Homo sapiens: one gene and its partner. The protein of the gene in region 2 purifies or fractionates together with the protein of the main gene of each other region. This does not show direct contact. Each region holds a gene or a part of one and is shown on either strand. Other genes may lie near its edges.

The links.
Region 1: the proteins of PMEPA1 (region 2) and ASIC4 purify together in Homo sapiens (co-immunoprecipitation; one large-scale study listed by IntAct). This does not show direct contact.

The regions. Positions count from the first base shown.
Region 1 is NC_000002.12:219,531,452-219,535,101, forward strand, and holds part of ASIC4 (acid-sensing ion channel 4), read left to right. Parts: intron 1-306; coding exon 307-451; intron 452-549; coding exon 550-677; coding exon of another isoform or gene 678-695; exon of another isoform or gene 696-863; coding exon 864-1,026; exon of another isoform or gene 1,027-1,431; coding exon 1,432-1,488; exon of another isoform or gene 1,489-1,811; coding exon of another isoform or gene 1,812-2,128; exon of another isoform or gene 2,129-3,650. UniProt on the Homo sapiens protein: Does not exhibit measurable stand-alone pH-gated sodium channel activity but may form pH-gated heterotrimeric sodium channels. Its activity could also depend on alternative gating mechanisms.
Region 2 is NC_000020.11:57,647,767-57,651,036, forward strand, and holds the end of PMEPA1 (protein TMEPAI), read right to left. Parts: 3' UTR 630-3,270; downstream 1-629. UniProt on the Homo sapiens protein: Functions as a negative regulator of TGF-beta signaling and thereby probably plays a role in cell proliferation, differentiation, apoptosis, motility, extracellular matrix production and immunosuppression.

The DNA.
Region 1 (3,650 bases), on a different chromosome or scaffold from region 2:
GACTTGAGAAACTGGGTGGATATAGTGGGGTGGTTTACTAGGGTGGAGGAAAACGGTGGGGGGAAGGCAGGGTTTGGGAAGGTGTTGATGTGCTGTTGGGTTGGAGATGCTTTCTAATCATCTAAGGGAGGCCATCAGTAGAAAAGTTGGCGCTGATTGGAGAGGCTGGGCTGTACATTGCTTGCTAGGATACGGGACTGGAGTGTCCAAGCAGATCTGGTGGCCCTCAGCAGGGAGCAGGGAACTTCGGAGTTGCCTTGGCCACTCCTTTCATCTCCCCTCCTGCTCTCTCACCCCACCTCCCAGGTCTATACTCGCTATGGGAAGTGTTACACCTTCAACGCGGACCCGCGGAGCTCGCTGCCCAGCCGGGCAGGGGGCATGGGCAGTGGCCTGGAGATCATGCTGGACATCCAGCAGGAGGAGTACCTGCCCATCTGGAGGGAGACAAGTACGCAGGCCGGAAAGGGACAAGGGCCACCTTGGGGACTGGGGCCTGGGCCCTCTGCCTGGGATGGGTTTCCAAAGGTCCCCATCTCTGCTGTGCAGATGAGACGTCGTTTGAGGCAGGTATTCGGGTGCAGATCCACAGCCAGGAGGAGCCGCCCTACATCCACCAGCTGGGGTTCGGGGTGTCCCCAGGCTTCCAGACCTTTGTGTCCTGCCAGGAACAGCGGGTGAGCATCTCCTGCTAGGCCCTGGATTGGGCACAGGGCTCGCCTTTGGGCTCAGAGGGGATGTGGAGCAAACCTGCCCTCTAGAAGCTCAGAGCCTGCCAGCTGTGTTGACTTTGCTGGGGCTGTGGGCACTGGAGGACTGGGTGGGATTCCTGAGCATGACCTCATCATGCCCCACCTCTGCAGCTGACCTACCTGCCCCAGCCCTGGGGCAACTGCCGCGCAGAGAGTGAGCTCAGGGAGCCTGAGCTTCAGGGCTACTCGGCCTACAGTGTGTCTGCCTGCCGGCTGCGCTGTGAAAAGGAGGCCGTGCTTCAGCGCTGCCACTGCCGGATGGTGCACATGCCAGGTGGGCACCCCACCCCCAGCCAGCCCTCCATGCCACCCTGCTAGGCTCCAGAGCCTCCCGGGGCAAGGCACTGCTCATGTGCACAGGCAGGTGCATGTATACAACATGTGTATGTGTCTGTACCCGTGTGAGTGTGAGTGTTTGGGATTTTTAAACATGGTTTCACATATGCATGTGGGAATGCCGGCATGCAGATGCCTGTGTGCATGTTAATATGTATTTGTGTACGTGCATGCTCATTTATATCCGTGGTTGCGTATTTGTGGGGGTTGTGTGTGTGGTGTTCAAGCACATTTATGCAAATGTGTGCATATGTGTGTGCATGCATGTATGTGCTTACATTTGGGCGTGTGGGGGACAGGGGAAGTGATCGTAGATTCCAGGAATAATCTTCTCTCCTTTCAGGCAATGAGACCATCTGCCCACCAAATATCTACATCGAGTGTGCAGACCACACACTGGGTCCGTGCTGCCTACCCTTTCCTACCTCTCCATCAGCCTCTTCATGTCTCTGTCCACTCTTCTCCTCACTGTCTTGGATCCTCCCCTCCCAATCTCTTCCTGGAGGGTTCTTCCTGGGGGTTGAGCCTTAGCCCATACTTCAGTGGGGTTGGGGAGAGGTCTGCGGACCTCTGCAGGTACAGACACTTGGGTAAGTGGAGGCAGCAGGGTGGGGGGTTGCAGAGAAGCCAGGACTGGGAGTGAAGGTCTGGGCTTCTCATCTTGGTTCAGCCAATGAGCTCACCCACTTTGAGAAAGTGAAATGACTTCTCTCTTGGTCTCAGGAAAAATGCATTGCTGGCTATCGGTGTGGGTAAGGCAAACCCCATCTGTCCACAGATCTTGCCTGATCTGCAGTTCATCCATCTATCCATCCATTCATCGATTCGCGCATTCTCCAGACCTTTACAGCCTGTGCTGGGTACTGGAGGTGAGAGTGGGGGCGACAGCCCTGCCCTTGGAGAGCTTACACCCCGGCAGGGCTGTGGACAGCCATTCCCACACAGCCCGTCAACTCCTGGAGAGGGGAGCCTCGGGTGTGCTGCAAGGCCCCAAGGAGGGGTGTGCAGCCCTAGCCTGGGAAGGTAGGGAGGATTCCTAGAGGAAGGGACACATTAGCTGAGGCTTGATGGGTGTATAAGAGTCAGGTGCAAAGGGGGACATACACTGAAGACCTGTGGCCAGAAAGAGCATGCTGTGTCCGGGGCACTGAAAGGTCTGTGTGGCTGCAGGGCAGAGAACAGGGGAGGGAGTAGAAAGAGTAGAGGAGGGAGGCCAGGCACGGTGGCTCACAAGTGTAGACCCAGCACTTTGGGAGGCCAGGGTCTGTGGATCACTTGAGCCCAGTAGTTCAAGACCAGCCTGGGCAACATGGTGAGACCCTGTCTCTGCAAAAAATAAAAAAGTGAACTGGGTGTGGTGGTGCACATCTATAGTCCCACCTATTCGGGAGGCTGAGGCAAGAGGATAGGCTTGAGCCTGGGAGGTTGAGGCTGCGGTGAGCTGGGATCACACCATTGCACTCTAGTCTGAGCTACAGAGTTACCCTGTCTCAAAAAAAAAAAAAAAAAAAAAAAAAAAGAGGAGGGAGGCTCTAGGAAGCCAACAAAGGCCTGTGGCAAGGCAGGAATGCCAGGTGAGTCCAATGAGATAGGAGGGGAGGAGACTCAAAGCCAGGGACTGGCGAAGCTGGCTGCAGTAATCCAGACACCTGGGGCCTTGGGGCTGGGTTTGAGACACTGGGCAGCCACACACATCCAGCCCTTCTCTGTCCCCCACACCACCTGCATCTGTCACAGGGGTGATTGGAGATGTTTAGTGAAGGAACAGATATGTGATCAGGAGTAAGGTGCCTGCAAGGCACAGCGGTAGACCACAGAGCTAGCAACATGGGGAGCCTTCATTCCCACCAGGCCTGCAGGAGGAGAGAGAGACCTGTGGCTGTCCGAGAGGGCTGACTGACAGCAGCATGGCTGGAGGAGCACAGCCTCTGCCACCTACGGCCTGGCAGTGAGAAAGCCAGGCGGGAGAAATACCCTGGCATCTCTTCCCTCTCACCTTCTGTTTCTGCTGGGGCCTCCTGTTGGCCAAACTGAACCCAAAGCCAGAGGACAAGGGAGTTTAGTTGATGCATTTGGGGGAGATCAGCCTCATAGGGTGCAGAGCAAGGTTGAAGAGTGGAGAGTGGATCTGAAGGGGCAGGCAGAGAAAGCCCAGCACATTGATCCTGGGAAGCTTGTCGGTCTATTTGTTCTTCTGTTCGCCCATCCGTCGATCTGGCCATCTGCCATCCATCCATCCATCCATCCATCCATCCATCCATCCATCCATCCATGCATGCATCCCAGCATCCTCTCCACACCTCCTTGTGTGTCTGAGGCCTCACATAGTTGATTAGCTCTGGTGGATGGGCTGTGTTCTCCCTCTGGGCCACGAGGACCCCCCCCCAGTCCCAGGGGGTTGGGAGGGTGCTGGGGGGTTCTGCTTATATCTGCTCTCTGGAGCAGTCTGAAGCTGGTTCAGGCGGGGACCTGCAGCCAGTCCCCTCTAGGAAGCACTGGGGCTGGCCAGTAAAGGCCCTCAGTGTGGGTGTGCCTGCCTCAGGACGGCCCCTGGGCCTCCTC
Region 2 (3,270 bases):
GGCTTCTGGGAGGACAGTTCTGCAGCTTCTGAGACTCACTCCTCCATCTTGTGCACCAGGAGCCAGAGGGGTCTGGGACTCTACCTTTCCAGGGTCCAGAGCCCCCACAGGTCCTCTTGGGATCAAGCTGAGGCTGGAACTCTGTCCACAAGTGTCTCCCTTGCTCAGGTTCTCCCCCTCCTTGATCCTCTTCCCTGACTCCCTTAGCGGAAGCCCCCTGGGAGCACATCCTTAAAACGTCCTAATCCCTTACACACAAGGCCACGTCTTGGGGTTACTTCTGGAAGAACCCTACCTAAGACAGTTTCTTTTTTCCTTGCAGACCTTATCAGAGCTTTCGTCATGCTATGGTGAATAATGATTTCCCGACGGAGGAAAAGTATGCAGTGTTTTGCAAAATTGTTTAACAACGACCACCCCCTTTACCAGAACCTGCCTGAGCTAGTGTTTTCACTGGGCTCCCTGAATGCTGCCTGAACTAATAAAACAGAAAGTTTGAACGAACTGTTCAAGGTTGCCCAGCAGCTCCGAGGGATCGCTTCGCCTCCCTTGAATGCACCCGGGGTTATTGTAGAAAGGGGTGGGAAGTGAGAAGAGCTACATTTGGCCAAAGAAGTGAAAAAGCCTCATTCCAAAGAATTGTAAAATTTATTGTATAAGTATTGCAGCTTTTCAGAATGTCATCATTGCCACTAATGATTACTGATACACAACAAGCAGTTTCTTCAGGCCTGTGGATTGGCATCCAAATACAGAGTCTTACGCAGCGGGGACGTGGGTGCGCGCCCCGCATGCCACGGAAAGCTTACATAAGTTTAACTTGAACAGAGCTTGGGAAATGGGGCTGCAAAGGAGAGCAGTTCCCACGCCAGGAACCAACGTGAAAGCATTGGAATCAGCACAACAGCCATGGAATCAGGCAGGCAGGGGAGGACGGGCTGTGTCCTTCTGAGCTCTATAGTACAGCAAGATTTCAAGCAGTTTCCAGAAAAACAACAACAACGACATTTTCTTTCCTTATCGACGGGATATTTTATGGTTCTGGAAGCTTCGTGTTGCACATAGGAAAAAAAATTTCTCTGAAACGTACAATTCATAGGGACGACCAATGAGGACAGGGAATGAACCCGGCTCTCCCCCAGCCCTGATTTTTGCTACATATGGGGTCCCTTTTCATTCTTTGCAAAAACACTGGGCTTTCTGAGAACACGGACGGTTCTTAGCACAATTTGTGAAATCTGTGTAGAACCGGGCTTTGCAGGGGAGATAATTTTCCTCCTCTGGAGGAAAGGTGGTGATTGACAGGCAGGGAGACAGTGACAAGGCTAGAGAAAGCCACGCTCGGCCTTCTCTGAACCAGGATGGAACGGCAGACCCCTGAAACGAAGCTTGTCCCCTTCCAATCAGCCACTTCTGAGAACCCCCATCTAACTTCCTACTGGAAAAGAGGGCCTCCTCAGGAGCAGTCCAAGAGTTTTCAAAGATAACGTGACAACTACCATCTAGAGGAAAGGGTGCACCCTCAGCAGAGAAGCCGAGAGCTTAACTCTGGTCGTTTCCAGAGACAACCTGCTGGCTGTCTTGGGATGCGCCCAGCCTTTGAGAGGCCACTACCCCATGAACTTCTGCCATCCACTGGACATGAAGCTGAGGACACTGGGCTTCAACACTGAGTTGTCATGAGAGGGACAGGCTCTGTCCTCAAGCCGGCTGAGGGCAGCAACCACTCTCCTCCCCTTTCTCACGCAAAGCCATTCCCACAAATCCAGACCATACCATGAAGCAACGAGACCCAAACAGTTTGGCTCAAGAGGATATGAGGACTGTCTCAGCCTGGCTTTGGGCTGACACCATGCACACACACAAGGTCCACTTCTAGGTTTTCAGCCTAGATGGGAGTCGTGTACAAACCTTGGCAAAAAAAGGTTGGAGGAGCAGGAGTAACCTCACCAAGCTAGGCACCTCCCTGGTAGAGACAGGGTGAGGACGCGCGAGGATGATGGGGTGTCTGAAAAGCAGGAGCCCTTGGTGGACCCTGGGAGGGGATACCAGTCCCAGGTGAGTGAGGCACTGTCCGGGAACGTCCTCACCGAGCGACGGGAGTGTCACTGCTTCTTCAGTAAGGCACTAGAGACGCGTCACATAAAGGAAAGATACGTTTTAATCATCTTTACAAGTGCGTCCTTGTACCTTTCGGGATAACCTGTACTGATTTCTCTGCAGGACCTTTTCAAAGAATCCTCTTCAAGAGAGAAACAAATTTTAGGCTGACGACTTCACGGAGAGGCAGGTTCTGCTGTTGCCAATGAACGAGAACTTTCTACTAGGCTGGCGGCATGCAGAGCCCACGTCTGTCAGCTGCCACCTTCGTAAAGCACACGTTTCACATGCATGAGCTCGAGTGGCTAGAACTTCAAAACTGTGCTCAGGTTTTTGTTTTGGAAGTTATAAAAAAGTTGCTCACAAACAATAGTTATTGCCTTTTATATCTTTTATGTTAGTCTACTAGTCAGCATTCTGCCCAAAATGGAAAGCCACTCCCATGGGAAGGGAGGGGGTAGCAGCTGGGAGTCTGCTCTTCCAGCTGGGGGCCCTCCCACCCCCATGGGGAGGAAAGACGTCAAGCTCCAGCCACTGGCCCCGGTGGGTCCCAAAGCCCCACCCCTCATGCTCTCCTCTGGTCACCTCTATTTACGCTCACATGCCCCTTCCTGTCCTTCACCTGCACGTCACCAGCAGGTCCCGCCAACCCCAAATCTATCTGGTGAAAACCTGGAGAACAAGAGCGGAGTCTAAGAGAGATGTAAATGAAAACACAGATCAACAGACACACCAGAAGGGAAGCGTTGTTTCCGCGGGGAAAGGAGATGGAAAGGGGAAGAGAAGGTGAAGAATTCTGCGCCCGAAGCTCGGGTTGGTGTTTGCTCAACTGCTTTACTCATTTTAACCCTTTCACCTATCCTGGGAGAAACCCAGGCTTGTCACCTTTTCATGTTGGGTTGTTTATTGGCCTCTTAAGTGAGAATTGATCCGTGAAGGGAAACAGACAGGAGGAGGTCAGATTGCGAATACCTGGGGCTTCCTAGGGTCCAGTGCGGCAGTTACCGCACCTGCCTTCACCGGTGAACCTTTAGCCAGCTGAACAACCACCAAAGCGCCCTGCAGAGACAAGTCATCGAGCCCTCTGGCATGTCCCTGGTAGCCCGGGCACCAGCCGCTGCGGCTTGTGAGGGGCACCATGCTCCACCCCACGGGGACCTTCACAGTTGG